Linked DNA regions of Homo sapiens: regions 1, 3 and 4 are each linked to region 2. Evidence: fine-mapped expression QTL. A gene starts in region 2. Each other region holds a variant in brackets. All regions are shown on one strand. Distances are between the middles of the regions. Region 1 holds the start of MIR6794 (microRNA 6794). Region 2 holds the start of DNASE2 (deoxyribonuclease 2, lysosomal). Region 3 has its middle 5.0 kb from the start of ZNF69. Region 4 holds the start of RNASEH2A (ribonuclease H2 subunit A).

The links.
Region 1: its variant is fine-mapped to the expression of DNASE2 in whole blood (TOPMed, PIP above 0.99).
Region 3: its variant is fine-mapped to the expression of DNASE2 in whole blood (TOPMed, PIP above 0.99).
Region 4: its variant is fine-mapped to the expression of DNASE2 in whole blood (INTERVAL, PIP above 0.99).

The regions. Positions count from the first base shown.
Region 1 is chr19:12,851,514-12,858,911 of GRCh38, forward strand. MAST1 (microtubule associated serine/threonine kinase 1) reads left to right here. Exons shown (of 26, transcript NM_014975.3): 8 at 421-522; 9 at 602-734; 10 at 815-882; 11 at 6,849-6,928; 12 at 7,018-7,226. It overlaps MIR6794 (microRNA 6794), which reads left to right and starts at 747; the gene lies at 747-814. RefSeq lists an enhancer at 676-1,176. The variant C/T (reference allele first, on the strand shown) is at 2,865.
Region 2 is chr19:12,878,099-12,885,593 of GRCh38, forward strand. DNASE2 (deoxyribonuclease 2, lysosomal) reads right to left here and starts at 3,351. Exons shown (of 6, transcript NM_001375.3): 1 at 3,192-3,351; 2 at 2,874-3,054; 3 at 2,704-2,782; 4 at 572-736; 5 at 284-481. The coding sequence starts at 3,277. KLF1 (KLF transcription factor 1) reads right to left here. Exons shown (of 3, transcript NM_006563.5): 2 at 7,219-7,495; 3 at 6,324-6,962. The coding sequence ends at 6,787. RefSeq lists enhancers at 2,882-3,509, 3,169-3,278, 5,703-5,964, 6,837-7,388, 7,286-7,375 and cis regulatory regions at 3,173-3,733, 4,473-4,973, 5,513-6,033, 6,913-7,413.
Region 3 is chr19:11,879,045-11,886,539 of GRCh38, forward strand. No RefSeq gene overlaps it. Among named protein-coding and RNA genes, the nearest start is that of ZNF69, 5.0 kb to the right of the region's middle. RefSeq lists an enhancer at 2,277-2,456. The variant T/A (reference allele first, on the strand shown) is at 3,186.
Region 4 is chr19:12,802,781-12,810,248 of GRCh38, forward strand. It overlaps RNASEH2A (ribonuclease H2 subunit A), which reads left to right and starts at 3,804. Exons shown (of 8, transcript NM_006397.3): 1 at 3,804-4,020; 2 at 4,228-4,299; 3 at 4,426-4,549; 4 at 4,639-4,726; 5 at 7,291-7,428. The coding sequence starts at 3,894. THSD8 (thrombospondin type 1 domain containing 8) reads left to right here. Exons shown (of 2, transcript NM_001386800.1): 2 at 1,324-1,609. The coding sequence ends at 1,523. RefSeq lists a cis regulatory region at 3,051-4,083 and enhancers at 3,528-3,657, 3,858-3,907. The variant C/G (reference allele first, on the strand shown) is at 5,250.

The DNA.
Region 1 (7,398 bases), 27 kb before region 2:
TCTCGCTGTGTCACCCAGGCTGGAGTGCAGTGGTGTGATCTTGGCTCACTGCAACTTCTGCCTCCCAGGTTCAAGGGATTCTCCTGCTTCAGCCTCCCAAGTAGCTGGGATTACAGGCACCTGCCACCACGCCTGGCTCATTTTGCGTTTTTAGTGGAGATGGGGTTTCACCATGTTGGCCAGGCTGGTTTCAAACTTTTGACCTCAAGTGATCCACCCACCTCAGCCTCCCAAAGTGCTGGGATTACAGGCATGAGCCACCGTGCCCAGCCTCATTATTTTTACTGTGTGGCTTGGGCTTCAGTCTCCTCACCTGTAAGATGGGACAGTAGCAGCAGTATGTACTCTGAGGGGCTGAGAGAGGGGCCGGGCTGAGGCAGAGTGCCTATGAGCCCTGTCCCTCTGTGTCCCCTGCCACAGGCCTATGAACGCTCTGAGAGCTTGGAGGTGGCCTTCGTTACTCAGCTGGTGAAGAAGTTGCTTATTATCATCTCACGCCCTGCGAGGCTGCTGGAGTGCCTGGTGAGGGGGCTGGGCATGGGTAGGGGTGGGTTGGTAGACCCTGGGAGCCTGTGGTGAGCCCACTCCTGCCCTGCCTCAGGAATTCAACCCCGAGGAGTTCTACCACCTGCTGGAGGCGGCCGAAGGACACGCCAAGGAGGGCCACCTTGTGAAGACGGACATCCCCCGCTACATCATCCGCCAGCTGGGCCTCACCCGTGACCCCTTTCCAGGTGCCGGCTGGTGGGCGCAGGGGGACTGGGGGTGAGCAGGCCCAGAACCCAGCTCGTGCTCACTCTCAGTCCCTCCCTAGATGTGGTGCATCTGGAGGAACAGGACAGTGGTGGTTCCAACACCCCTGAGCAAGACGATCTCTCTGAGGTAAGGCTGGGTGGCTAAGCGGTCAGTACCCTGGTTCCTGGGAGGGCAGGGTGGGGCTCATCTCCGGCTTCTTTGCCCTCAGGCTTTGTGGATCTCTTGGTCCTACACTCTGAGCCTCAGTTTTCCCATCCATAAAATGGGATTAATAATAGCTCTTCCAGAGCCTGGCATGCTGGCTCATGCCTGTAATCCCAGCACTTTGGGAGGCCAAGGTGGGCAGATCACCTGAGGTCGGGAGTTCGAGACCAGCCTAACCAACATGGAGAAACCCCGTTTCTACTTAAAAAAAAAAAAAATGCAAAAATTAGCCAAGCCTGGTGGCACATGCCTCTAATCCCAGCTACTTGTGAGGCTGAGGCAGAAGAATCACTTGAATCCAGGAGGCAGAGATTGCTGTGAACTGAGATTACACCACTGCACTCCAGCCTGGGCAACAAGAGCGAAACTGTCTCAAAAAATAAAATAAAATAAAATAAAATAATTGCTCTTCCCCTGTGACCTCTTTGTCATGTTAAAATCCATGAAACATAAAATTTAATTTACTTTTTTAACCATTTTATTTTATTTTTATTTATTTATTTATTTATTTTTTGAGATGGAGTTTTGCTCTTGTTGCCCAGGCTGGAGTGCAATGGCACTATCTCAGCTCACCACAACCTCCATCTCCTGGGTTCAAGCAATTCTCCTGCCTCAGCCTCCCGAGTAGCTGGGATTACAGGCATGTAACACCACACCCGGCTAATTTTGTATTTTTAGTAGAGACTAAAATTTCTCCATGTTGGTCAGGCTGGTTGCAAACTCCCAATCTCAGTTGATCTGCCCATCTCGGCCTCCCAAAGTGCTGGGATTACAGGCATGAGCCACCGCGCCCGGCCTTTTTAACCATTTTAAAATGAACAATTCGGGGCCGGGTGCAGTGGCTTAGGCCTGTAATCCCAGCACTTTGGGAGGCCAAGGCAGGAGGATTGTTTGTGCTAAGGCATTTGAGACCAGCCTGGGCAGCATAAAAAATCAGCTGGGCGTGGTGGTGCACCCCTGTAGTCCCAGCTACTCGGGAGGCTGAGGTGGGAGGATCCTATGAGCCCAGGAAGTCAAGGCTTCAGTAAGCCATGATCACACCACTGCACTCCAGCCTGGGCAACAGGGTGAGACCCTGTCTTGAAAAATGAAATTAAAAATAATAAAGAATAGGCCAGGTGCAATGGCTTATGCATGTAATCCTAGTACTTTGGGAGGCCAAGATGGGTGGATCACTTGAGGTCAGGAATTCGAAACCAGCCTGGCCAACATGGTGAAACCCCATTTCCACTAAAAATACAAAAAAATTAGTTGGGCGTGGTGGCACATGCCTGTAATCCCAGCTACTTGGAAGGCTGAGGCAGGAGAATTGCTTGAACCCGGGAGGTGGAGGTTGGTGTGAGCCAAGATCCCACCACTGCACTCCAGCCTGGGCAACAGAGCGAGACTCTGTCTCAAAATAATAATAATAATAATAATAATAATAATAATAATAATGATTAATAGTAATAAATAAACAATTCTGCAGCATTTAGTAATTCACCATGCTGTACAGCCATTAGATCTATGTAGTTGCAGAACTTTTTTATCACCCCCAAAGGGAAACCTCACACCCATTACACACTCCCTCCTCATTCCTCCCTCCCTGCAGTCCCTGGCAACCACTAATCTATTTTCTCTCTCTGTGGAATTGCTTTTTCTGGATATTTCTTTTTTTTTTTTTTTTTGAGACAGAATTTCACTCTTGTTGCCCAGGCTGGAGTGCAATGGCGTGATCTCGGCTCACTGCAACCTCCGCCTCCCAGGTTCAAGCAATTCTCCTCCCTCAGCCTCCTGAGTAGCTGGGATTATAGGCATGCGCCACCACACCTGGCTAATTTTGTATTTTTAGTAAAGACAGGGTTTCACCATGTTGGTCAGGCTGGTCTCGAACTCCTGACCTCAGGTGATCTGCCTGCCTTGGC[C/T]TCCCAAAGTGCTGCGATTACAGGCGTGAGCCACATGCCTGGCCTTTTTCTGGATATTTCCTATAAATGGGATCGTATGCTCTGTGGCCTCTTATGACTGGCTTATTTCACTTAACATAACGTTTCTGAGGTTTATCCATGTTGTAGCTTGTGTCACTGCTTCATTCATTTTTATAGCCGAGTAATATTCCATTGAATGGTAGATGCATTCATCCACTGGTGAACATTGGGTTGTCCATCTTTCATCTGTTGTAAATAGTGCTCTTATGAATGTGGGTGTACAAATATTTGGCTGGACAACTGCTTTGAGTTATTTAGGATATACGTCTAGAGGTGGAATTTCTTGGTCATATGGTAGCTCTATGTTTAACTTATAGAGGAATCCTGCATGGGCTTTCGAGCAAGCTAACTGGCTGTATGTGTTAATGGCAGCTCAGCATGGGGAAAATTGCCAATTCTATTCCCAGGCCAGCCACACTTTGGCAGATGTTCCAGATGTCTAGTGGAGAGTCCTACCCCAATGGCCACACATGTGTTTTCTCTGAACTGCCTAGTATTTTTCAAAAATTTGGGCTGGGCCTGATGGCTCACGGCTGTAATCCCAGCACTTTGAGAGACTGCGGCGGGTGGATCACTTGAGGTCAGGAAGTCGAGACCAGCCTGGCCAACATGGTGAAACCCTGTCTCTACTAAAAAAATACATAAAATTAGCCAGGTGTGGTGGTGCCCACCCGTAATCCCAGCTACTTGGGAGGCTGAGGCAGGAGAACTGCTGGAACCAGGGAGACAAAGATTGCAGTGAGCCGATATCAAACCACTGCACTCCAGCCTGGGTGAGAGAGTGAGACTCCATCTTGAAAAAAATAAAAATAGATAAATAAAAGAAGCAAAATATAAAAATTGAAAGATTTTTGCTTCAAAATCTGGGTTTGGGCCTTCTCTTGAAAAATCAGAAGTTCTAGGGCTGGGTGTAGTGGCTCATGCCTGTAGTCCCAGCACTTTGGGAAGCCAAGGTGGCAGGATTGCTTGAGCCCAGGAGTTTGAAACCAGTCTGGACAACATAGCAAGACCCTGTCTCTACTTAAAAAAAAATAGAAGAAGAAGAAGTTCTAATAATACTGTGGTGGAACCAGCTGAGTGGGGGTGGTCCTGTGATATTGGGTACCTGCCCCTTCGTCATCCATGGCCTCCACCCTGGTCTACTGGCCCCTGAAGACGCTTAAGTTTGTAATCTTTATTTCAAATTGTGTCTATACAGTCACACAGATATATACACATACCTTTCCTTTATGTATATATTTAAAAGGAATCTCACAATATATGCCATTTGTTTAATTTTTTGAATAGGTAATGGAATGACATCACTCAAAATCTAAAACTCTAAAAAAAGGTATTTATCTCTCATTGTTTGTAGGATTCTGTTATTCCTTTTAATCAAACTTGTTAATTGAGTGATTCAAATCTTCCATCTCCCTATTCATTTATCTTGCCTGATTAATCTAATAGTTTCTGAGAGAAATGTGAAACCTTATTTTAAGCAAATTCTCCTTGTAATTCTGTCAATTTTTTTTTTTTTTTTGCCATTTTGGTTTTTATTTGATTATAGGTAAGAGTTCCATACAATAGTGTGCGAAGTATTGCAAACAATAAAGGAAAAATACAGCATAAGATACCTCTTACACTCTGCCCAATTCTGTCAATTTTTATGTCAGATATTTTTAGGCTACATTCTTTGGAGCATATAAGTTCAATATTTTTATATATCATAGATCTTTTTATGTAATATCTATGTAATAAATCTCTTTGTCCCTAAGAAAAATCAAAATAATTTTCAAGAAAGATATACAGTGAAAAAAATCTTACTCCTACCTTTTTTCCCCATTGCCCTATAGCCCTGAAATATGATTACATAGTTTTATTTTGCCACTTTTTTTTTTTTTTTTAGACAAAGTTCCACTCTTGTTGCCCAGGCTGGAGTGCAACAGTGTGATCTCGGCTCACTGCAACCTCTGCTTCCTGGGTTCAAGTGGTTCTCCTGCTTCAGCCTTCCAAGCAGCTGGGATTATAGGCAACCACCACCACGCCTGGCTAAGTTTTTGTATTTTTAATAGAGACAGGGTTTCACCATGTTGGCCAGGCTGGTCTCGAACTCCTGACCTTCAGGTGATCCACTTGCCTTGGCCTCCCAAAGTGCTGGGATTGCAGGTGTGAGCCACCACACCTGGCCTTTGCCACATTTTTTTGCACATAAACGTACAATACATATTGCCTATTGCATTTTTACACTTAATAAAATAGAGGACTTTCTAAATCCATAGACAGAGAGTTTCCTCATTATTTCTAACAGTGGCACAATGTTTCTTTATCTAACTACCCCACATGTGTTTGTTTGGCTAATTTAACGTATGGATTATTATTTCCAATCTCACAATGAGCAAGATAGTAGATATACCATTTTTCACATGTGCAAGTATATCTGTAGCATAAATTCAAAAGTAAAATTGCTGAGTCAAAGGGAACATGTATTTGTAATTCTGATCTGTATCAAACAGTAATTTACACTCCCAACAGCAAAGTATATATGTTCACCTACATATTTGCCCATAGAGGATATCAGGTTTTGGAGTTTTTTCTCCCAATCTGCTAGGTGAAAAATGGTATTTTGTGGTAGTTATAATTTGCCTTTCTGTTATTGTAAGTGAGATTGAGAATTTTTTTTTTTTGAGATGGAGTTTTGCTCTTGTTGCCCAGGCTGGAGTGCAATGCCACGATCTCGGCTCACCACAACCTCTGCCTCCTGGGTTCAAGCGATTCTCCTGCCTCAGCCTCCTGAGTAGCTGGGATTACAGGCATGTGCCATCATGCCCAGCTGATTTTGTATTTTTAGTATAGATGGGGTTTCTCCATGTTGGCCAGGCTTGTCTCGAGCTCCTGACCTCAGGTGATCCACCAGCCTCAGCCTCCCAGGTGATCCGCCCGCCTTGGCCTCCCAAAGTGCTGGGGTTACAAGCGTAAGCCACTGCACCTGGCCAAGAATCTTTTTTTTTTTTTTGAGACAGAGTCTCGCTCTGTCACCCAGGCTGAAGTGCAGTGGCATGATCTCTGCTCACTGCAAGCTCTGCCTCCCGGGTTCACGCCATTCTCCTGCCTCAGCCTCCCAAGTAGCTGGGACTACATGTGCCCGCCACCATGCCTGGCTAATTGTTTCGTATTTTCAGTAGAGATGGGGTTTCACAGTGTTAGCCAGGATGGTCTCGATCTCCTGACCGCATGATCCGCCCACCTTGGCCTTCCAAAGTGCTGTGATTACAGGCGTGAGCCACCGCTCCAGGCCCGAATCTTTTAGTATGTTTAAGAGCTGTAACTCTGGCTGGGTACAGTGGCTCATGCCTGTAGTCCCTACTCTTTGGGAGGCCAAGGCAGGCAGATTGCTTCAGCCTAGGAGTTCAAGAGCAGCCTGGGCAAGATGGCAAAACCAAAATACTAAAATTAGCCTGGCATGGTGGCATGTGCCTGTGGTCCCAGCTACCTGGGAGGCTGAGGCAGGAGAATCACTTGAGCCCTAGAGGTGGAGGCTGCAGTGAGCACCACTACACTCCAGTCTGAATATCAGAGTGAGAACCTATCTCAAAAAAAAAAAAAAAAAAAAAAAAAAAAAAAGCTCTAACTGTAATTTACTTACCTCACCCACTTTTTTCTCTTCAATTGTTAGGCTTTTGTTATTGATTTTTGGGAACTCTTTATATATTTATATATTAGGATGACTATTTTGTTGGTTTCCTGCTATCTTTTCTAGTGGAAGAAGATGAGAATATGTCTTCAGAGTCAGTCTTGGGTTCAAGTCCTAACTTTCTCTTTCATTATGGCACTTGGATGAAGGACTCTTTCATTCTGTGCCTCAGTTTCCCCATGTGTAAAATGAAATTAAAAGCATCCTGCTCTCATGATGATGATGGTGGTGTGGTCTCCATCTTTTTCCTGAAGGGCCGCAGCAGCAAGGCCAAGAAACCGCCGGGGGAGAATGACTTCGATACCATCAAGCTCATAAGCAACGGTGCCTACGGGTGAGCCACCCGGGGCTCTGGCGGGGGGAGGGTGGCGGAGGCCGGGTGTCTCGGAGGTGACGGCCGGTCCTCGCTCTCTCCCCCTGCAGCGCTGTCTACCTGGTGCGGCACCGCGACACGCGGCAGCGCTTTGCCATGAAAAAGATCAACAAGCAGAACTTGATCCTCCGCAACCAGATCCAGCAGGCCTTTGTGGAGCGCGATATCCTCACCTTCGCCGAGAACCCGTTTGTGGTCGGCATGTTCTGCTCCTTTGAGACTCGGCGCCACCTCTGCATGGTCATGGAATATGTGGAAGGTGTGGCTGCCTGCGGGGCTGCAGGGAAGATGGGGCCGTGCTCACTGGTCAGGGCTGCGGGGTGGCCTGCCTGAGCCGCAGTCTCCATATTGATTAGTCGGCCTGTATGTTTATCCATCTATTTATTTCTCCAGTCATTGATTTGTCCATCCATTCTACCTATATATTTATT
Region 2 (7,495 bases):
GGCACCACCTCTGGCACCCAAATGACTTACAGGTACCACTTCATTCACAATTTTTTAAGTAGATGTCAGTATCCCCATTTTTCAGATGAGTAGACCAAGGCTCAGGTGAAGTTATACATCACACAGCAAAACCCAGGGTTTGAACCCAGGTCTGTTCACTGATCATGTGATTATAGCTCCCAAACAGACCTGGTCTCTACCGCTGACTTGAACTCAGCCATGGCCACACCAGTCACCCTGTCTGCAGAGAAGGAGCTCTCCAACCCTCAACCTTGAGACTCACCATCTCCAAATTTGCTGAACTTGGCAAAGCTCTGGAAAACAGCCCCGGCCTGGGATGTGAGTGTGATGCTGCTGTTCCAGGGTTCTTGGCTAACGTGGTGGCCCTTGACCACATTCTCCAAGTCGGGGAATTCCTGGGCAAAGATCCCTTCCAGCTGGTAGTTATAGACCCAGGGGTAGGTGTAGGTCAGCTGCTTGCCTGGAGGACAAGGGGAGGAGGAAATGCAAGATCGTTCCAGGTTCTGGTCAGTAAACCCAGGACTCATCCTGTGTCCCTGACTCGACTTACCCATCTTCGAGAACTGAGCGAAGGGAAAAGACACACAGAGCAGGGTCTGCCCGTAGGTACAGGCGCTATGAGGCCAGCTGTATGCAGCAGAGGAGGCCGGTGGAGGGAAGTTAGGTACACTGTGGACCAGCCAGAAGCCCCCATCGTGGTCAAGGAGCAGGACACCTGGACCAAAAGAAGGCATTAGGGGAGGTCGGGCGCAGTGGCTCACGCCTGTAATCCCAGCACTTTGGGAGACCGAGACACACAGATCACCTGAGGTCAGGAGTTAGAAATCAGCCTGGCCAACATGGCGAAACCCCATCTCTACTAAAAATACAAAAATTAGCTGAGCGTGGTGGTGGACGCCTGTAATCCCAGCTACTCAGGAGGCTGAGGCAGGAGAATCGCTTGAACCCAGGAGGTGGAGGTTGCAGTGAGCTGAGATCCACCACTGCACTCCAGCCTGGGCCACAGAGCAAAATTTCATCTCAAACATAAGTAAGTAAGTAAGTAAATAAATAAATAAATAAATAAATAAATAAAAATTTAAAAAAAGAAGGCAGGCCCCACGCAGTGTAATCCCAGCACTTTGGGAAGCCGAGGAGGGCGGATCACCTGAGGTCGGGAGTTCAAGACCAGCCTGGCCAACATGGAGAAACCTCATCACTACTAAAAATACAACATTAGCCGGGCATGGTGGTGCATGCCTGTAATCCCAGCTACTCGGGAGGCTGATGCAGGAGAATCACTTGAACCCAGGAGGCGGAGGTTGCAGTGAGCCGAGATTGCACCATTGCACTCCAGCCTGGGTAGCAAGAGCAAAACTCCTTCTCAAAAAAAAAAAAAAAAAAAAGGCAATTAGAGGGTATTGCTCCAGGCCTCCCAGCAAGCTCATCTGCAATCAGGAACACCCTCAGTTTGCAGCGGGGCTTAGAGAGGGTGCCAGCAGTGTTAGAACCACAGCTGAGCTCAGTTTTTGCAGGCATAAATTCTTATAGTCCAGAATAACGCCAAGAGTAATGTAAGGTAGGGAAACAGGCCAGGTGTGGCGGCTCATGCCGGTAATCGCAGCACATTAAGAGGCCAAGGTGGGTGGATTGCTTGAACCAGGACTTAGAGACCAGCCTAGGCAACATGGCAAAAGCCCACTCTACAAAAATACAAAAAGTAGGCCAGGTGTGGTGGCTCACGCCTGTAATCCCAGCACTTTGGGAGGCCAAGGCAGGTGGATCACCTGAGGTCAGGAGTTCAATATCAGCCTGTCCAACCTGGTAAAACCCCATCTCTACTAAAACATACAACATTTAGCTGGGCATGGTGGCGCACACCTGTAATCCCAGCTACTCCAGAGGCTGAGGCAGAAGAATCGCTTGAACTGGGGAGATGGAGATTGCAGTGAGCTGAGATTGCACCACCGAACTCCAGCCTGGGTGATGGAGAGAGAGTGCCGCAAAAAAAAAAAAAAAAAAAAAAAGCCAGGCGTGGTGGGGGGTACCGGCAGGCCCAGTACTTGGGAGGCTGAGGTAGGAGGATCACCTGAGCCCTGGGAGGTCAAGGCTGCAGTGAGCTGTGATACTGCACTCCAGCCTAGGTGACTGGGTGAGACCTTGTCTAAAAGAAAATAAAATAGGGGAAATAGATGCCCAAGGTCTGACAGGGGAGATCTCCCACCCCACTATGGAGGTCAGGGGTTAGCTTGGAAAAATGCATAGGAACTCGGCTGGGCAGGGTGGCTCATTCCTGTAATCCCAGCACTTTGGGAGGCCAAGGCGGGTAGATCACTTGAGGTAGAAACCAGGAGTTCGAGACCAGCCTGGCCAACATGGTGAAACCTCGTCTGTACTAAAAATATGAAAATTAGCCTGGTGTGATGGTGCGCCTTTAATACCAGCTACTTGGGAGGCTGAGACAGGAGAATTGCTTCAACCCCAGAGGCAGAGATTGCAGTGAGCCAAGATTGTGCCACTGCACTCCAGCTTGGGTGACAGAGCGAACTCCCACCGTCTCAAAAACAAAGAAAAAAAAAAGTTGGGGGGAATAGATGCCCAGGGTCTGACAGTGCAGATCTCCCCGACCACCCCATGCACGTCAGGGGTTACCTTGGAAAAATGGGACCCGAGTCTCTCCCCAGCCCCCAATCCAGGCCTCACCCTTCGTGTGCCCACGCATGGAAGAGTCCTGAGCCTTGCTGGGTTGAGGCGGTTGGTCATTGTAGAGCAGGAAGGCGAGCTGCGGGCGGATAAACGGAGGCAACGTGAAATTCCTCCCAGGCAGGGCAGCCCTAGAGTTTCGCCCCTAGTTGGCCCGGGGCCCCCTTCACCTGGCTGGTGTTGCTCCGGTACAGCGGCTGCAGGCTTCGGCCCACGGCCCCCTCCGGGCTGTTGATGAGTGCCCTGCCGTCCCGCCAGCCTCCGGAGCTCTCGTCCAGATACTTGTACTGCAGCCCTCTCTGCGCCGCCTCCCCGGACCCTCTAAGAGCTGGCAGCTTGTAGACCACGAACCTGGAGGTCGGAGAATGCACAGAAATAGGAGAGAGGGAAGAGAAGGCACCCCAGGGTTCCCCGAGGAGGTAGCCATCCCGGTTGAGTGACCGCAGCCGGACCCCGGGGCGATGGTAGGCCCCCCGCTGCGCACTCACCAGTCTACAGGCTGCCCGGAGTCCCCGTAGCAGGTCAGGGCCCCGGCGGGGACGCACAGCAGCGCTGCCAGCAGCAGCGGGATCATAGCTGCTATGGGGCTGAGATCCAGGAATCTGTGTCGGGACTGCGGGGCGCTGGGTTACATCAGAGGCCAGGACTGGCACCTGGCGCCTTTCACTTCCCTAAACTTGCCTGGGAACCGGGGCGGGGACATCACGAGGGTACAGACTCCTCCCCCGAGACGCGATGCTGCGTTTTGGAGAGGCAAAAGGCAACGCTGAGTCTGCCCAGACCACGCCCACGACGGGCCCGGCGCTCCAGCGTCTCCTGGAGCCTGGCCACCGTTCCTTTTCGTGGTAGCTAATCCCAGCCCACGCTCTTCTGTCTGACCCAACTCCCGCCCGGGTTTCTGGATCAGGCACAAGTTTGTATTTTATTTTTTATTCCAGCCCTACAACCTGGGTCCAACTCTTGGGACCTTTGTTCTTCCTCTTTTTTTTTTTTTTTTTTTTTTTTTTTTTTTGAGACGGAGTTTCACTCTTGTCGCCCAGGCTGGAGTGCAATGGCACGATCTCGGTTCACTGCAACCTCCGCCTTCCTGATTAAAGCGATTATCCTGCCTCAGCCTCCCGAGTAGCTGGGATTACAGGCGCCCGACACCACGCCCGGCTAATTTTTGTAGTTTTAGTAGAGACGGGGTTTTTCCATGTTGACTAGGCTGGTCTCGAACTCCTGACCTCGTGATCCACCAGCCTCGGCCCCCGAAAGTGCCAAGATTGCAGAAGTGAGCCACTGCGCCCCTTAAGAAGCATTTGTGTTCCAGTGTATCTTCCCCTTTTTCTTTCTTTTTTTTTTTCCTTCCTTTTTTTTTTTTTTTTTTCCCGGACAATATCTCGCTCTGTTGCCCAGGCCGGAGTGCAGTGGCGCAATCTTGGCTCACTGCAACCTCTGCCTCCCCAGCTCAAGTGATCCTCTCACCTCAGCCTCCCGAGTAGCTGGGATCACGGGCACATGCCACTATGCCCAGCTAATTTTTGTAGTTTTTTTTTTGAAACACGGTTTCACCATGTGGCTCAGGCTGAACTCCTGAGCTCAAGGGATCCACCTGTCTTGCCTCCCAAAGTGCTGGGATTACAGGCATGTAATCCACGCCACCCAGACTCTCCTTTTTCATTCTGCACGTTTTCTCCAGGATCCCCTGAGCTAGCAAAGAGGTGACTGTATGTTTGTTTTTTGTCGTTTTGAGACAGGATAATGGTTTCTCACCCAGGCTAGAATGCAGTGACTCCATCACAGTTCACTGCAGCCTCAACCTACTGGGCTCAAGAGATCTTCCCAGGTAGCTGGTACTACAGGCCTGTGCCACCACACCCAGATAATTGTTCATTGCAGAGATGAGGGTCTCACTATGTTGCCCAGGCTGCTCTGGAACTCCGGGGTTCAAGTGATTCTCCCACCTCAGCCTCAAAGGATCATGGCAGGGCAAAGGGCTATGGGAATCTGAGTACTGGCTTGAAACTGCCTTTGCAAAAATTATGACAGAAAATTATGTCAGTGAAAGAGCTCTGACCTAACCAACTCCATCTTGCCTTTAATCTCCAAACTGCCCTTGCTTGGTCATTCCTGGAGTGGGGTCAAGCTAACTTTTTTTTTTTTTTTGACACGTTGTCTCACTCTGTCGCCCAGGCTGGAGTCCAGTGGTGTGATCTCAGCTCACTGCAACATCCGCCTCCTAGGTTCAAGCAATCCTCCTGCCTCAGCTTCCTGAGTAGCTGGGATTACAGGCATGCGCCACATGCCCAGCTAATTTTTGTATTTTTGGTAGAGACTGGGTTTCACCATTTTTGGTAGAGATGGGGTTTCACCTTGGGGCTCAGGCTGGTGTCGAACTCCTGGGCTCAAGTGATCTGCCCGCCTCAGCCTGCCAAATTGCTGGGATTAAAGAGGGAGCCACCATGCCTGGCCCCAAGCTAATTTTGGGAGGAATTTAGTTTATAGCTTAAATGATAATAGCCCTTCCCCAAACTAAACTGCCTTTGTAGAAATAATGAAAGGGCACTAGGTTAGGAGGATGAGAGGAGCCTGAATTCTGCTAAACTGTAGGTGTAGTAGTTAAATTATGACCAGCCATTTTTCCGGCCGGGTGCGGTGCCTCACGCCTGTAATCCCAGCACTTTGAGAGGCCGAGGCTGGCAGATTACCTGAGGTCAGGATTTCGAAACCAGCCTGGCCAGCATTTCGAAACCCCATCTCTTCTAAAAATACAAAAATTAGCCCGGCATGGTGGCATGTGCCTGTAATCCTAGCTACCTGGTAGGCTGACACAGGAGAATCACTTGAACCCAGGAGGCAGAGGTTGCAGTGAGCCAAGATGGAACAACTGCACTCCAGCCTGGGCAAGAGCAAGACTCCATCTCAAAAACAAAAACAAAGATGGCCAGCCATTATTCTGGAGGTCACAAGGTTTGCAACTTCCCCAGTTATTTCTGCAAATAACATGACTATTGCAAAACCTAACGCTGGCCTTTTTAGATGTCTTTTTAGGCTTTTTGCATATCTGACAACTGGATGACTCCACCCAGACTAGCGACTCTATGGTCCCCACCCAGAAGCTGACTCAGCAACTGTTTTCCACAGCTCCAGGATTGCAGCAAGGCACCCATTCCCTAGCCCTCCTGCCCACCAAACTGTTCTTGAATAACCCTAGCCTCTGAATTTTCAGGGAGGCTGATTCAAGTAATAAAACTCCCATCTCCCATTTAGCTGGATGTATGTGGATTAAACTCTCTCTATTGCAATCCCTCTGTCTCGATAAATTGGCTCTATCTGGACAGTGGGCAAGATGAACCCCCTGGGCAGTCATAGGCTGTGAACTCTTAAATCCAGGGAGATGTTTGCTGTCAATGTCCGCAGGGTTCAAGGCAGAAGACAAGGACAGTGTAGCCTGAACTGGGTGGGAAAAGAGAGGACAGCAAGGCCTCCAGTGCCCAAGGGGGCTTGTTGGAGTTGAGGGGTGTCACTGTAGTTTAGGAGATGAGGGTGTGTAAGGCCCTCTAATATGACCTCTAGGTTTACAGCCTCCTGCCATCTTCCAGCCTCCAAAACCCAAAAATTCAGGCCAACGCTGAAGCTTTATCTGGGAGGGGCATTTTTATAGGACCCATAACCATTGACAGTTAATATCAGCCACAATAAGGGACCTTCAGGAGCCGCTTTCTAGACCCAGGGTCTCTGGGAAGCCTCATCCCACACCCTCTCCTGCTGTCCAGGGCCATCTGGGAGCTGGTCTGAGTGTCCACTGAGTCCGTTTATTTGGCGGTCTGTCTCACTGGGTTTGCACGACAGTTTGGACATCTCTGTGTGGCTCCCTGTGGCTGAAGGCTTGTCGGATTTTCCGTAAGAGGCTCCCCCAGGGCTGTCTATGGGTCCGTGTTTGATATTTGGGTGGATCTTTGGGAACGCGAGTCCAGGAGAGGGTCCATTCGTGGGAAAACCACCCAGCATTGTGTCACGCGCGTCCGTGTGAAGAGACCACCAAACAGGCTTCTTGTCCCATCCCCAGTCACTAGGAGAGTCCAAGTGCCAGGGCAGGGCTCAAAGGTGGCGCTTCATGTGCAAGGCCAGGTGGTCAGAGCGCGAAAAAGCACGTGGGCAGAGCTGGCAGCGGAAGGGGCGCTGCCCCGTGTGTTTCCGGTAGTGGCGGGTCAGCTCGTCCGAGCGCGCGAATCTCCAGCCGCAGCCTTCCCACGTGCAGGCGTATGGCTTCTCCCCTAGGGGACAAGGAAGCCATAAGCGCCACTGTCTGCCCAGTCATGTCCCCGGGTCCCCTGCATCTGGCCACACCCCTTTACTCAGCCTGGGCTGGGACTAGGATGAACAAAGTGAGGCCCCTAGGGCACAAAATTTAAGGAGGCACTCACTCTCAGAGGCCAGCCAAGTCCAAGTCCCGCCCTCTGCAACCCTTCTTCCCCTGTAACTACAGCGGGCGCCGCGCCCTTTCTCATGTCCGGGGCCCCGCCCCCTCACCTGTGTGCGTGCGCAGATGCGCCTTCAGGTGGGAGCTCTTGGTGTAGCTCTTGCCGCAACCCGGGTGCGCGCACGTGTGCGCTGCCTGCCTCTTGCGCGCCCACGAACGTCGGCCTCGCTTGGATGGCGCGGTCTCGGCTATCACACCTGGATCCTCTGCAGTCCCCCCGAGTCCAGTGCCCACCGTCCCGGGTCCCAAACAACTCAGGAAGGAGGGGGACGTGGCGGGACCGGGCGCGGGTCCCTGGAGCCCGCGGAAGAGCTGGAAGTGCCCTTG
Region 3 (7,495 bases), 1.0 Mb before region 2:
TTGGTGGGATTTTAATTTTTTGTTTGTTTGTTTTGAGACAGTGTCTTGCTGAAGCGCAGTACCCAATTATAGCTCACAGCAGCCTCAAACTTTGGGGTTCAAGTGACTCTCCTGTCTCAGCCTCCTGAGTAGCTGAGACTGTAGGTACACACACTTCTCCTTGGTAATTAAAAATTTTTTATGGAGATGGGAGGGTCTCACTTCACGGCTCAGGGTGGTCTCCAATCTCGGGCTTCAAGCGATCCTCCCACTTTGGCCTCCCAAAATGTTGGGATTACAGGCGTGAGCCATGGCACCCGGCCTCCCAGGCTGTTGTTTGAAGGTCTTTGCAATCTCTAAGAGTTCTGCAGCAATTTATTCCCTGACAGTGAGAGTCTCATCCTTTGACCCCATTTTGCCGCAGTAGCTGAACGTTCACTTTTCTTTCCATAAGGGGGCGAGCTTGCCAGTGACCCTAATCCCTCTCCTCATCGATGACTTCTTTGTCATCAGAGCCTTCCTCTTCATAAATTCCCACGGAATCCAAGTTTTCACGTCCCAATCGGGCTTAGTTATGATAGCCACAGGCCCACACCAGCTGCCACAGCACCCCTGTCCCATGGAAACCGCCTGACTCTCTTCTCCCCAAGCGTCCTGTCCCAGGAGCCCCCATCATCTCTGCTCCCCCGGGCTCCAGGCCCTAGAGCCGCGCTGCTGCAGAGCCCGGTTCCCAGGGCTGCTCCCTCCATATATCCACATTCATCTCCAGCTCTCCACCCTCTCTCCAACCAGCCAGGCCCGGAGGTACTGCAGTGTCACTGAACGTGCGTCCCTCAGCTGCCACCTCCACCACGATCTGGAAATCTTTTAAATGCACTTAAGTTATCTTAGAATTTTCCTTCCCCACTTTATACATAAACATAGGAGGAGAGCAGGGACTCTGCTGGTGTCTTATTCACACAATGGGATTGAGGGTGTTTGTGTCATGGAACTGATCAATGGGGTGAGAAGTAGCTGAATAACCTGCAGGGGGCAGCAGAGCCCGAGGCCGGTGACTCAACGCTGAGGCCAGTGTGGAGCCTGCAAAGGAAGGGAAAGGAGCCTTTCCTGGGGGCTTCCGGGCAGCCCGCCCTCCCCTACAGGTGGCCTCCAATTGCTCAGAGCAGCTCCAGAAGGAGTGCGGATTCCGAGAAGCTGAAGAGCCCTGGAAAGCAGAAGACCCACATGCACACGTATGTGTGGGGGTTCTGTCCTTTCTGGTGTTGTACCTCTGGAGCCTGGGGCTGTCTTCTGGGCAGGGTTTGGGGTTTGACATGCATGGGGCCACTGGGGTCAGATTTGTAAGATACAGTGAATTTCTTTAAGTTTTTCTTTAAAGATTTAGCCTGCTAACTTCCTCGTCTTTTGTTCTCAAACTCAACTTTCCTGTTCCTCCTTGCCCCTAGTTACTTTAAAACAGCCTACCCCGTTCCCATCAGCTCTAATCAATAACTCACATCTGTTCCCTTGGTTACCTGTACCCATTGTTCCCCCAAAACTGCACATCTCACATGCTCCACCTCTGTACCTCACATCCCCCTCCCCTTCTATATTTAGAAAAATATGTACAAGCAGCCAATCGGGTCAGCTCAGACTGTGCGGTCCGACCCCAGCCCATGGGGGAGTAACACAGAGATAGGGACCGCATTAAGGATAAAAACCTCCTGGTCTCCTTTGTTCTCTGTGCTCTTGTGATCTTGATTGACGTGAGTGGCACCCTTCTGCAGTAGTAAATTGCCTTGCTGAGAGAATTAAAATTTTGCCTGAGTGCTGGTTTTACTTCACGGCACCAAGCTTTTATTCCGGGAGCATTTTATATCCAACAATTCTAGGGGATCGTCCGAGATCCCCATGCTCCTTTTGGAAGAGTTCTTCAGTCACCCTACCCTGGGGAGACGCGTCCCACTGCCCCATTGCGGTGGCCTCAGGGACAGGAGATCGAGACCCACCCATTTTGACGAATAAACCCGGACTCTCAGCAACGCGGGGAAGAGAGGCTTGCAATACCGCAGCGACCAGGTAAACTCTGTGCACAGACCAAGGTGGGAAACGTTGCAGGGGCAACAAAGTAATTCTTTGGTAGTCGGAGGGGTGTGTCAGGGCATTCTGGGGGTTGAAAGTGCATGAATGGTAACAAGCACTACTGCTGTGCGGAGCGAGTGAGTCCAATCTGCGGTTCTGTGGTCACCTCACACGGCTTAGGGCAGCCCTGCGGGGGTCCTGTCACAGGTTTATACGGACCTGCCATCAATGCTAAGAGGAACCTGAAACAAACCTGCGAGGGAAGCGGCCAGAGTGGATGAAGCGAAAGAAGGGTGCAAGGAACCTCCAGCAGGTGGAGCTAAAGGATAGTGGAATTGAGCCTTAGCCACACTTCCAGTGAGGGATAGGCAAAAGACCTCCTAATATGAGGGGTTGAGCCACAAGGAACCCCCCAAATAGGCAAGAGATCCTTAATTTGAGAGGCTGAGCCACAAGGAACCCCCAAAATAGGCAAGAGATCCTTAATATGAGGGGTTGAGCCACAGCAAGCCCCCCTAGGCAAGAGATTCCTATCACGAGGGATTGAGCCTAGCCAGGACCCAGTATAGGAAATATTACAAGCAAAAAAGACAAAGTTAGCAACAAAGATATCCCCCCTAATAGTCCCCTAGGTCTCATGTTAAAACATTAGAAAGATAATGAAAAGACTAAACATAAGAAAAAGCAATTAGTGATAAAATATTGCTGTTCCATTTAGACTCAAGAACGAATCCTTGAACCCTTAGTTTTCTGGCCAGAATTTAAGTCGAATGAGGGATGGATTTGTGAACTTCTAATAGAAAATGTTGCTAGTAGAAGACCTGCCTCCTGAGAAGAAACAAATTATGCCCTATGTTAGTTGCAAGGAGTTGTCCTTTCCCCTCCTCCAAGGATTGAAAGGAGCAAGTCAAAAACTAATATTTGGAGGAAAATGAGTTGTACATGTGCCCTATTAAGATAGAACCATCTTTAATGAAAAAGACAGTGAAGGAAGGGGCTTGGGGGATCCTAGCAAAAAGAACAACTCGCAAGATCCCCTAGACCATTCCCCACCTAATACCCAACCCTTCCCCTCAGGCATCGCCCAGTAAGTCTGTTCTTCCCCAGCCTAAGTCCCTCTCCCCTAAAGAACTCCAAGCTCCTAA[T/A]TCACCAGATGGCTTTTGCCAGGCTAGCAACATGAAGGATCTGCCGCAACATGTTGTCAGCGTTGTCTGGCCCATAGTGCACCCCTGCAGCGGCAAAGCCCATGCTCCTGCCCACTGGCTGGTCCAAGGTCCTGGCACTGTATTGACGGCAGCTCTGCATGACATGCGAGCCAGGCCCCAGCCTATGCCCCATGCAAACTACATTATAGGATATCTGCCTTACTTTGCTGAGGCTAAGTAATACGGGGCTTCAGCGATGGCTCCAAGCAGCCTGGCATCCCCGCAGCTAAGTTTCCTGAGCAAGAAGTAGATAATCTTTCAGCGGATATATCCACTAGCATTTATTATAGTCAGGCCAGTGTTAAAAGTGAAAATATCCACCAGAAAAGAACTCTGATTCTTTAAAGTCACCTATGTTAAAATGTACCACCAAAAAAGAATTACATGTGTATAAATATGAGGCTATTCTGTTAAAAATGATAGTTTAATGTTACTAGTAATTTGCTTAACCTAACAAGTTTCTTAACGAAAGATCCAAATCTAAAAAGGAAGCACACATGTTTAGATTTAACTGATTACCATACAAATGTCCGGCCAAACTTAAGAGAAACCCCCTTCAAAAATGATTAAAGGAAAAAGGATTCAACAGATGTTCAATAATAAATAGAGAAGTTCCTAGAGAAATAAAATTTAAAAATTGTTTAATAGTTTACCCAAATTTGTAAGCTGTTTGCACTTAGTCAAGCTTTAAAGTAACTGCAAAGGAACCATCTATACTAATCTATATTGATTCTAAATACACCTTTATCGTGGCTCATACATTTAGAAAATTTCAGACAATAATAAAGGTCAAAGCCTTGTTCATGAAGAGTTAATAACCCAAGTGTTAAATAACCTTCAGTTACCAGAAAAAAAAAAAAAGCTATTTTCCACGTCCCCAGGCACCAAAAATCCTATCTTTCAAGAGTTAAGAAAATAACCTAGCAAATCAGATAATCCGAACCAGCTGCCGTTTCTCCTGTAGGCACTGAAGGGAATTCAAATGTTATTTAAACCTCTTATGAAAGAAGTCCTATCCCACCTAAATTAGAGGACCCATTAAAGACCTCAAGCTATGTATAGCACAGTTAAAGTTTATATGTGTATGAAAATGTACATCCTTAGCCAAACAAGTCTAGAAACTTAGTTGCCATAACTCAAATGTCTTCTGTCTTCCTATTAATCCAAACTACCTCTCAAAGCAATCCACTGCCAACATTCCTACATACTTGGTTTATCTTCCACTTTCTCTTCCCTCAAAACTCACAATTTTCCAGTACAGGTGCGGCTCCTGGAGTTCCCAGTGCGTCAACACCGGCCTGAGGAGCTGGCCTAGTACTTCCCACCATTGAAACTGCAGTCTGGACAGCAGAGAAAGGATAGACCCATCACACCCGAGTCAAGAAAGCACCGCCACCCCCAAAGTCGTAGGCCATTATTCCAGGGGAAAACCCCCTCAAACTAAAGCTAAGAAAAATTTAACCTCTTACATCTATTCTATTACTCTTTCTTCTTTTCCCCTTCCAATGCTGACCACCTTGTCATTAATGTAACTCAATCAAACTCACCCCAAGTTATCACGTTTAATGCTATGTCTAGTCATACCCTGTAAAGATCTCCAAAGTCAAAGACAAGTCTCAGCCTCAGAAAAGTATCTCTGCCCCTTTAAGGTGAAAGGCCCCCCCTACCAAGACTCTTGTTCCTTAACAAATATAAGAAAACAAGTCTGTCATAGCTAGAATGATGTCCTATGGACAACCAAATGTCAAGGCTAGACCTCATCAGCAGGTGGCTGTATATCCTTAAAACCATACATTCATTTCACTAAAAAAAGCACCTCCCCAATTGCCAGTATAATCAATGTAATCCCATACAAATTTCCACCTCTACTGACCCTAAACCTACTTTAAGTCACTTCTATGGAACAGGAGCCAACTTGGCCAGCACAGACCTCATAAGATCTTTCGAAATGCGTTTTATTAATCCTTCATTCTCTTCACCCCCTTCCTTCTCTTCTCCTTCTAAGCTTTCTTCTAATCAGACTGCCACCTGTTTTCTACCTAATGATACTACTAAAGTAAATATTGTAGAAGTAAAAGATTTAAGACAAACCCTAGCAATTAAAACAGGATATCAAGATGTAAATACCTGGTTGGAATGGATTCAATATTCCGTCCGCACATTGAACAAAAGCAATTGTTACGCTTGTATGCATGGCAGACTAGAGGCCCAGACTGTTTCCTTTCCACTAGGATAGCCCTTCAGCCGACCAGGCATAGGCTGTATGGTAGCTCTTTTCCAAAATTCCACAGCCTGGGGCAACAAATCATGCCAAGCTCTCTCTCTGCTATATCCCGAAGTCCAACAACCTGCAGGCCAGCCCCCAAAGGCCATTCAGCTTCCTTCTCCTGACGTCAATTTCACCTCATGTCTCTCACGACGAGGGGAGAATCTGGCGTTCCTTAGAAGCTTAACAAGATGCAATAAGCTTAAGCCCTTCCAAAAACTTACCCATCAGTCTGCCCTTAGTCATCCTCAAGCAGATGTATGGTGGTATTGTAGTGGACCTTTACTGGATACTCTGCCAAGTAACTGGAGCGGCACTTGCGCTCTTGTCCAATTGGCGATCCCTTTCACACTGGCATTTCATCAACCAAAAAAAAAGAAAAGCCACAACACCAAAAAATAAGAGAAGCCCCTTATAAGTCTTTTGACTCTCAAGTTTACATAAAGGCCATTAGAGTCCCATGGGGAGTGCCTAACAAGTTCAAAACCTGAGACCAAATAACTGCAAGATTTAAACCCATATTTCCCCGAATAACTATTAATAAAAATGTAGCTTCGATAAATTACATCTATTATAATTAGCAGCAGTTTATGAATTACACCAAGGATCTTATCAAAAAACAGCTGACCAGTTAAGGCCTACTAGCCAAATAGCTTAAGAAAACAGAATCACTTGACTGGGCGCGGTGGCTCATGCCTGTAATCCCAGCACTTTGGGAGGCCAAGGTGGGCGGATCACAAGGTCAGGAGATCGAGACCATCCTGGCTAACATGGTGAAACCCCCGTCTCTACTAAAAAATACAAAAAAAGTATCCGGGCGTAGTGGCGGGCACCTGTAGTCCCAGCTACTGGGGAGGCTGAGGCAGGAGAATGGCGTGAACCCGGGAGGCAGAGCTTGCAGTGAGACAATATGGTGCCACTGCACTCCAGCCTGGGCCACGAAGTGAGACTCCATCTCAAAAAATAAAAACCAGAATGGCTCCAGACATGTTATTAGCCAAAAAAGGTGGAGTTTGTGTTATGATTAAAACCCAGTGTTGTACCTTCATTCCAAACAACACTGCCCCCAGTGAGAGCATAACAAAGGCCTTGCAAAGACTTACCGCTTTATCCAATGAATTAGCTAAAATTTCTGGAGTCAATGACCCTATTTCAAGATGGCTAGGAAAGTAGTTCAGTCAATAAAGAATCATAGCCTCAATACTTATTTCTTTTACAGTCGTAACAGGTGTACTTATTCTTGTTAGGCGTTGTGTCATACCATGCATCCGTAGGCTAATACAAAGGATTGTACGAACAGCATTTACTGAAACCTCCCTTAGTTCTCCTCCACCTTATTCAAGTAAGCTTTTCCTTTTAAAAGATCAAATCAAACAGCAAAGCCAAAACACGTTAAAAAAGTTTAAAGAGAAAAAATCATAAGAAAATTAAAAGGGAGGAATTGTAACATACAGTAAATTTCTCTGAGTTTCTTTTTTTTTTTTTTTTTGAGACGGAGTCTCACTCTGTCACCCAGGCTGGAGTGCAGTGGCGTGATCTCGGCTCACTGCAAGCTCTGCCTCCTGGGTTCATGCCATTCTCCTGCCTCAGCCTCCCGAGTAGCTGGGACTACAGGCGCCCACCACCACGACTGGCTAATTTTTCGTATTTTTTAGTAGAGACGGGGTTTCACCATGTTAGCCAGGATGGTCTCGATCTCCTGACCTCGTGATCTACCCGCCTCAGCCTCCCAAAGTGCTGCGATTACAGGCGTGAGCCACCGCGCCTGGCCTCTCTGAGTTTCTCTTCAAAGACTTAGCCTGCTAACTTCCTTGTCTTTTGTTCTCCAGCTCAACTTTCCTGTTCCTCCTTGCCCCTAGTTACTGTAAAACAGCCTACCCCCTTCCCGTCAGCTCTAATCAATAACTCACATCTGTTCCCTTGGTTACCTGTACCCATTGTTCCCCCGAAACTGCACGTCTCACACGCTCCATCTCTGTACCTC
Region 4 (7,468 bases), 75 kb before region 2:
CATAGGGGAAAGGGGCAGATTCAGTAAAGAGCCCTTTAAAGTGATCACAGTGGCCGGCGCGGTAGCTCACGCCTATAATCCTAGCACTTTGGGAGGCTGAGGTGGGAGGATCCCTTGGTCTCGGAGACCAGACCAGCCTGGCCCACACAGCAAGACTCCATCTCTACAAAAAATATTTTAAAATTAGCCTGACTTGATGGCCCAGCACTTTGGGAGGCCGAGGCGGGAGGACTGCTTGAGCCCAGGAATTCAAGACCAGCCTGGGCAACATGGAGAGACCCCCTACTCTACAAAAATAAATAAATAAATAAAAATAAAAAATAAATTAGCCTGCCATGGTGGCATGCGCCTGTAGTCCCAGCTACTCAAGAGGCTGATACAGGAGGACCATTTGTGCCAAGGAGTTTGAAGCTGCAGTGAGCCATGATTATGCCCTTGCATTCCAACCTGGGTAACAGAGCAAGATCTTGTCTCAAAATAAATAAATTAAATAAATAAACAAACTGATCATAATAAATTGGTTTGTATATGCTAGCACAGCACCGGGAGATTTACTTACCTTCATTATGTCAATTATGCCATTTATCACTTGACAACCCTGCTGTCAGGTGGCATTGTGCCTTCTAGGTAGGGCCATGGTCACACCCCTGAAGACAGAAGTCAGCTTCAAATGGCGGGCACCAAGGATGTTGTAGGACACTCACAACTGGGCAGGCTGGCACAGCCTGGAAGTGTCAGGTTGTAGTTCCTCTGGCCCACTTACCCCGTATATGAGCTTGGAAGGTTGGCTTGCTGTCTCTGGGTCTTGGTTTCCCCACCTGAGACTCGTGGAAATATTAAATGAGGCCAGGCATGGTGGCTGGCTCACACCTGTAATCCCAGCACTTTGGGAGGCTGAGATGGGAGTATCACTTGAGCCCAGGAGTTCCAGACCAGCCTGGGCAACATGGTGAAACACCGTCTCTGCAAAAAATACAAAAAATTAGCCAGGCACAGTGGCATGTGCCTGTAGTCCCAGCTACTTGGTAGGCCGAGGTAGGAGGATTGCTTGAGCCCAGGAGGTTGAGGCTGCAGTGAGCTGTGACTGCGCCACTGCACTCCAGCCTGGGCGACAGAGCGAGACCCTGTCTCAAAAAAAAAAAAAAAAAAAAAAAAAAAGCTTAAATGAGATAATCTGTGGCAGGGTGTCTGGCATAGAAGCAGAGTCTAGCGAATATGTGCTTCTCTTATTCGTTAGTATCTTTATCTTTCTCCCTCTCTGGGGGAGGGGATTGGGAGTAGGCCCCCTCCACGTAGGTCTTCACCTCTGCCCTCCTTCTCTAGAAGTCGAGGACTCAATCCTTGGCCCGTGGGGAAAGTGGCGGTGTCTCTGCGACCTGGGCAAGCAGGAGCGCAGCCGCGAGGTAGTGGGCACAGCGCCGGGCCCGGTTTTCATGGACCCGGAGAAGCTGATCCAGTTACGGCCCTGCCGGCAACGGGATTGTCCATCCTGCAAGCCCTTCGACTGCGACTGGAGGCTCTGAGCCCGGGTGAGAGAGCAGGGCCGGGGCAAGTTGCGGGGCCCAGGGTGGGCGCGGAGGGAGGATGTGCGGTGCGGGGCGGGTATGAAGCGAGTTTGAGGAAGGGAGAACTGGGGCTCCAAGTCTTGAGTGACTTGAGGCTGATTTGGTTAGGGGGAAGCTGAGTCAGGAGCCGTGAGCCCCGCTGATATCTAGGGAGAAAAGGAGAAAAGTGGAGGGGGCGCCGGGCGCCGGGGCTCACGCCTGTAATTCCAGCATTTTGGGAGGCCGAGGCAGGCGGATCTCTTGAGTCCTGGAGTTCAAGATTAGTCTGGGCAATATCGTTGAGATCACCTCTCCATAAAAATTTTTAAAATTAGGCCGGGCGCGGTGGCTCACGCCCGCAATCCCAGCACTTTGGGAGGCCAAGGCAGGCGGATCACAAGGTCAGGAGATCGAGACCATCCTGGCTAAAACGGTGAAACCCCGTCTCTACTAAAAATATAAAAAATTAGCTGGGCGCGGTGGCGGGCGCCTGTAGTCCCAGCTACTCGGGAGGCTGAGGCAGGAGAATGGCATGAACCCGGGAGGCGGAGCCTGCAGTGAGCCGAGATCGCGCCACTGCACTCCAGCCTGGGCGACAGAGCGAGACTCTGTCTCAAAAAAAACCAACCAAACAAACAAACAAACAAAAACATTTAAGTTAGATGAGCGTGGCGGCACATGCCTGTGGTCCCAGCTACTCGGTACGATGGGGAGGAAGGATCGCTTGAGCCTGGGAGGCAAAGGTTACAATAAGCCGAGATCGCTACACTGCTATCCAGCCTGGGCAACAGAGTAACATCCTGTCTCAAAAAAAAAAAAAAAAAAAAAAAAAAAAAAAAAGTGGAGGGGGAGGCGAAGAGGAGTAAAAGGAGATAAAGAGACAATGAACTAGGACCCTGAGGAAGGGGCATGAGCCTGGTAAGGGGCGGGAACCCACAGGCAGAGGACATGAGCCCCAGTGAGCCCAGGGAATAGAAGTGGTGGATGCCAGGCACTGTGGCTGGCTCAGGCTTGTAATCCCAACACTTTGGGAGGCTGAGGCGACCGGATCGCTTGAGCCCAGGAGTTTGAAGCCAGCCTGGGCAACATAATGAGACCCCGTCTCTACAAAAAATACCAAAAATAGTCGGGCATGGTGGTGTGGTGTGCACCTGTAGTCCAGCTGCTTGGGAGACTGAGGTGGGAGGATCGCGTCAGCCCAGGAGGTGGAGGTTGCAGTGAGCCAAGATCGCGCCACTGCACTCCAGCCTGGACAACAGAGAGAGACCCTGTCTAAAAAAAAAAGAAGGCCGGGTGCGGTGGCTCACGCCTGCAATCCCAACACTTTGGGAGGCCGAGGCGGGCGGATCACAAGGTCAGGAAATCGAGACCAACCTGGCTAACACGGTGAAACCCCATCTCTACTAAAAAGTACAAAAAATTAGCCGGGTGTGGTGGCGGGCGCCTGTAGTCCCAGCTATTCGGGAGACTGAGGCAGGAGAATGGCGTGAACCCGGGACGCGGAGCTTGCAGTGAGCGGAGATGGCGCCATTGCACTCCAGCCTGGGCGACAAGAGCGAGACTCTGTCTCAAAAAAAAAAAAAAGAAAAAAAAAAAGTGGGTCGAGGGGTGGGGGTGGGGACATTCATTCTAAGTTGGGAGGAATGAGCTTCTATAGGGAGCAGAGACCCTGAGCAGGAGTCCACCGAGGTCTGTGATCTCCAACGGGGGTGGGGAAGGCTTGGCCTGAATGAGACAGAGGTTAGGAAGCACAGATCTTGCACGGAGTGGAGGTGGGCCGAAGGGAGCAACCAAGAGAGGGAGTTTGGGGACTCCAAATCCAAAAGCCTGGGTTTAGTGGAAGCGGGGCTACCTGGTCCAGGGGACTTAGAATGTGTACAGAAGCAGGGACCGCAAGTACAGGGCCTGAATCCAAGTGGCAGTTGGGGACCCAGTGATGCGGTGACCCGTGTCCTGGGAGTGGGGTGATATTTGACTCTCTAGTTCCCCGTTAGGCTGGGTCTTCGAAGCTACGTCTCAGTTTCCCTCTTATTTCCCCCTCTTCCCACCGGGCCACGCAGGCGGGGCCCCAGAGACCGTGAAGCAGAGCTTGCAAAGTGACCCCGTCCACCGAATTCCCCAAGCTGAGTGTTCGGCCATAGCCCTTCGGGACTACAATTCCCAGGAGGGCGCACGGCAGCGACGTCGGCGTCGGCTGCGTAAGCGTCCACGGCGGCGGGAGCGCCAGGGGCGTGTTCTGCCCGCGGATTGGCCGGAAGCAGGCGCCGCTTCGAGGCCCGCGGAAAACGCGCGCCGAGACCCGCTCCTGCAGTATTAGTTCTTGCAGCTGGTGGTGGCGGCTGAGGCGGCATGGATCTCAGCGAGCTGGAGAGAGACAATACAGGCCGCTGTCGCCTGAGTTCGCCTGTGCCCGCGGTGTGCCGCAAGGAGCCTTGCGTCCTGGGCGTCGATGAGGCGGGCAGGGGCCCCGTGCTGGGTGCGCCCCTAGGGCCAGGGAGGGGAGGGGCGTGGTACGGAGGATGCGGGAAACGGGAGTCGGGATTGCACTGCACCAAGGGAGGGGATGTGGTCGTGGTGATGGCACCTAAAGAAGCAGTGATGATAGAACAGGGATGAATGGCAACTTTCACGGGCTCAGTGATTGGACCCCGGCTGCCAGAAAACTGACACCCCTTCTCCCCAGGCCCCATGGTCTACGCCATCTGTTATTGTCCCCTGCCTCGCCTGGCAGATCTGGAGGCGCTGAAAGTGGCAGGTGAGCCCGAGGTGTGCGTCTGGGGAAGGGATTCCTGGGTATGTGCAGGGGCAGGTGAGAACTGAAAGGGGAGGGCAGGAACTGGGAGAACCAGCTGTTCCCCTTCTCTTCCAAACCTCCTCCCAGACTCAAAGACCCTATTGGAGAGCGAGCGGGAAAGGCTGTTTGCGAAAATGGAGGACACGGACTTTGTCGGCTGGGCGCTGGATGTGCTGTCTCCAAACCTCATCTCTACCAGCATGCTTGGGCGGTGAGGGGTCCCCGGGAGGGGCAGCCAGCATGGGCTGACCAAGCTTTGTTCCTAGAATGAGATTAACTGGGCTCTGTTCCCCACCACAGGGTCAAATACAACCTGAACTCCCTGTCACATGATACAGCCACTGGGCTTATACAGTATGCATTGGACCAGGGCGTGAACGTCACCCAGGTGAGTTAACTGTAAGTTGTCCCCATTTGGTCATCTCAGGATAAAATGGGGACAAAACAGGAGTTCGAGACTGCAGTGAGCCATGATCATGCCACAGCACTCCATCCTGGGTGACAAAGGAAGCCCCCCAACTCAAAAATGGAGGCAGGGCGCAGTGGCTCACGCCTATAATCGCAGCACTTTGGGAAGCCGCGGCGGGTAGATCACCGGAGGTCAAGAGTTCGAGACCAGCCTGACCAACATGGTGAAACCCCGTCTCTACTAAAAATACAAAAATTAGCTGGACGTGGTGGCAGGCGCCTGTAATCCTAGCTACTCAGGAGGCTGAGACAGGAGAATCGCTTGAACCCAGGAGGCAGAAGTTGCAGTGAGCCAAGATTGTGCCATTGCACTCCAACCCGGGCAACAGAGCAAGACCCTGTCTCAAAAAAATAAAAAATAAAAAATAAACTAAAAATGGGAGACCAGGCGCAGTGGCTCACGGCTGTAATCCCAGCGTTTCAGGAGGCTGAGGCAGGCAGAT[C/G]ACCTGAGGTCAGGAGTTGAAGACCATCCTGGCCAACATGGTGAAACCTCATCTCTACTGAAAATACAAAAAATTAGCCCAGCATGGTGGCGGGTGCCTGTAATCCCACCTATTGGTGAGGCCGAGGCAGAAGAATTGCTCGAACCCGGGAGGCGGAGGTTGCAGTGAGGTGAGATCGCGCCATTGCACTCCAGCCTGGGGGACAGAGCGAAAAATAAAAATAAAAATAAAATAAAAAATAAATGTGGGCAAAAATGTGCAGTGTGCAGATTCAGCATCAGATACGTCTGGAGTGCCTCGGGCATATTCATTGCTACTGTTGATTTCGTGCTCCTGTTTCTGCCCTAAATGTGTGCCACACTGACGACCACAGTGTAGCCCCTAGTCCCGTCTCCATCTAATCTCTCCCTCATCCTAAAGGCTCAGTCTCCAGAACAAATCCTACATTGTCTACCTGTCACCTCTGTCCTAGCCCAGGACACCCCCCACTCCCTGGACACCTGCTGAGTGTCGTCTCTCGTCCCTCACCCTCCTATCCCCTCCAATCTGTTCCCCAAGCAGCAACAGAAGGTAGTCTTTTTGAAATGCACATCTCGACATTTAGTTTTCCGATCACAGTGGAAATTAAATCAGGAAAATTCACAGTCGAGTGGGGCAGAATTACATTAAATTACCAGAGAAAAACATAAATCAGCATTGCCTCGAATGCTCTCAATGAAAGAATGGACCGTTCTGAGAGAATAACAAGGCAAAATAACCTTGACGTAGGAATTGTATGCTGGGTATGGTGGCTCACGCCTGTAATCCCAGCACTTTGGGAAGCTGAGGTGAGCAAATTGGTTGAGGCTAGGAGTTCCAGACCAGCCTGGGCAACATAGCGAGACTCCATCTCCACAAAAAGAAGAAGAAAGAAAGGAATTATAGCAAGGTAGACCCTGCTGAGGAGGGACCTGAGGACCAGGCCCAAATGCAGAGCTGGCGATACAGTAACTGGTGTAGACAGACAAGGGCCCTACCCGTAGGCGTTCAGGGCCTAGCCTGGGCAGAAAGATGGTCAGCTGGAGGTTGGGCGCAGTAGCTCACGCCTGTAATCCCAGCACTTTGGGAGGCCGAGGCGGGCGGATCATCAGGTCAGGAGTTCGAGACCAGCCTGACCAACATGGTGAAACCCCATCTCTACTAAAAATAAAAAATAAAAAAATAAAACATGAAAGATGGTCAGCTGGTAAACAAAAAATAAAGGTTGTTTCTGAAAACAGTAGTGCTGTGGAGATACCACTTTCCCCCAGCAGCTCTTGGACCCTCTCTTCGGTGCTGCAGCCAAAGGCCCCCATGCATGGGCCCAGCATCATGAACCTGGTCCCAGCTCAGGGCCTTTGTACTGGCTGTTCTCACACCTAGAGCCCTCTTCCCCAGATCTCTGCACAGTTCACTTCCTCACCTCCTTCAAGCCTTTATTCACCACTACACCTAGCTAACTTTTTATTTTTTGTAGAAACAGGGTCTCCATATGTTGCCCAGGTTGGTCTCAACCACCTGCCCTCAAGCGATCCTCCCACTTCGGCTTCCTAAAGTGTTGGGATTACAGGCTTGTGCTAACGCACTCTACCAATTTTTTTCTAGTGTTTTCTGCCACCTCAGTTCCTAGAACAGTATGTGGCATGCAGTAGGTGCTAAATAAGTTAGAGTAAAAGCAGCGTGATAGAGAAAGCCTCTTCAGGAGGTGAGTTTTTTCTTTATTTTATTGTATTTATTTTATGTTTTTATAAAGATGGGGTCTCACTGTGTTGCCAAGCCTGGCCTCAAACTCCCAGGATCAAGCGATCCTCCCGCCTCAGCCTCCCAAAGTGCTGGGATCACAGGCCTGAACAACTTTGCCTGGTCTAGGAGGAGATGTTCGAGTTGAAATCCCTGATTGATCCATCCTGGGGACGTGCTGGAGAAGAGGATTCTGGGTAGCAGGAAGAACGTGCCAGGGCTGTGAGGCTAGAGCATTGGTACAGTTGTTTGTTCAATTAATATGTGTCTGTTGCTGTGGCAGGTATTCGTGGACACCGTAGGGATGCCAGAGACATACCAGGCGCGGCTGCAGCAAAGTTTTCCCGGGATTGAGGTGACGGTCAAGGCCAAAGCAGATGCCCTCTACCCGGTGGTTAGTGCTGCCAGCATCTGTGCCAAGGTCAGTACCCTACTAGCCATGGCTGGCTTCCACCATCCCA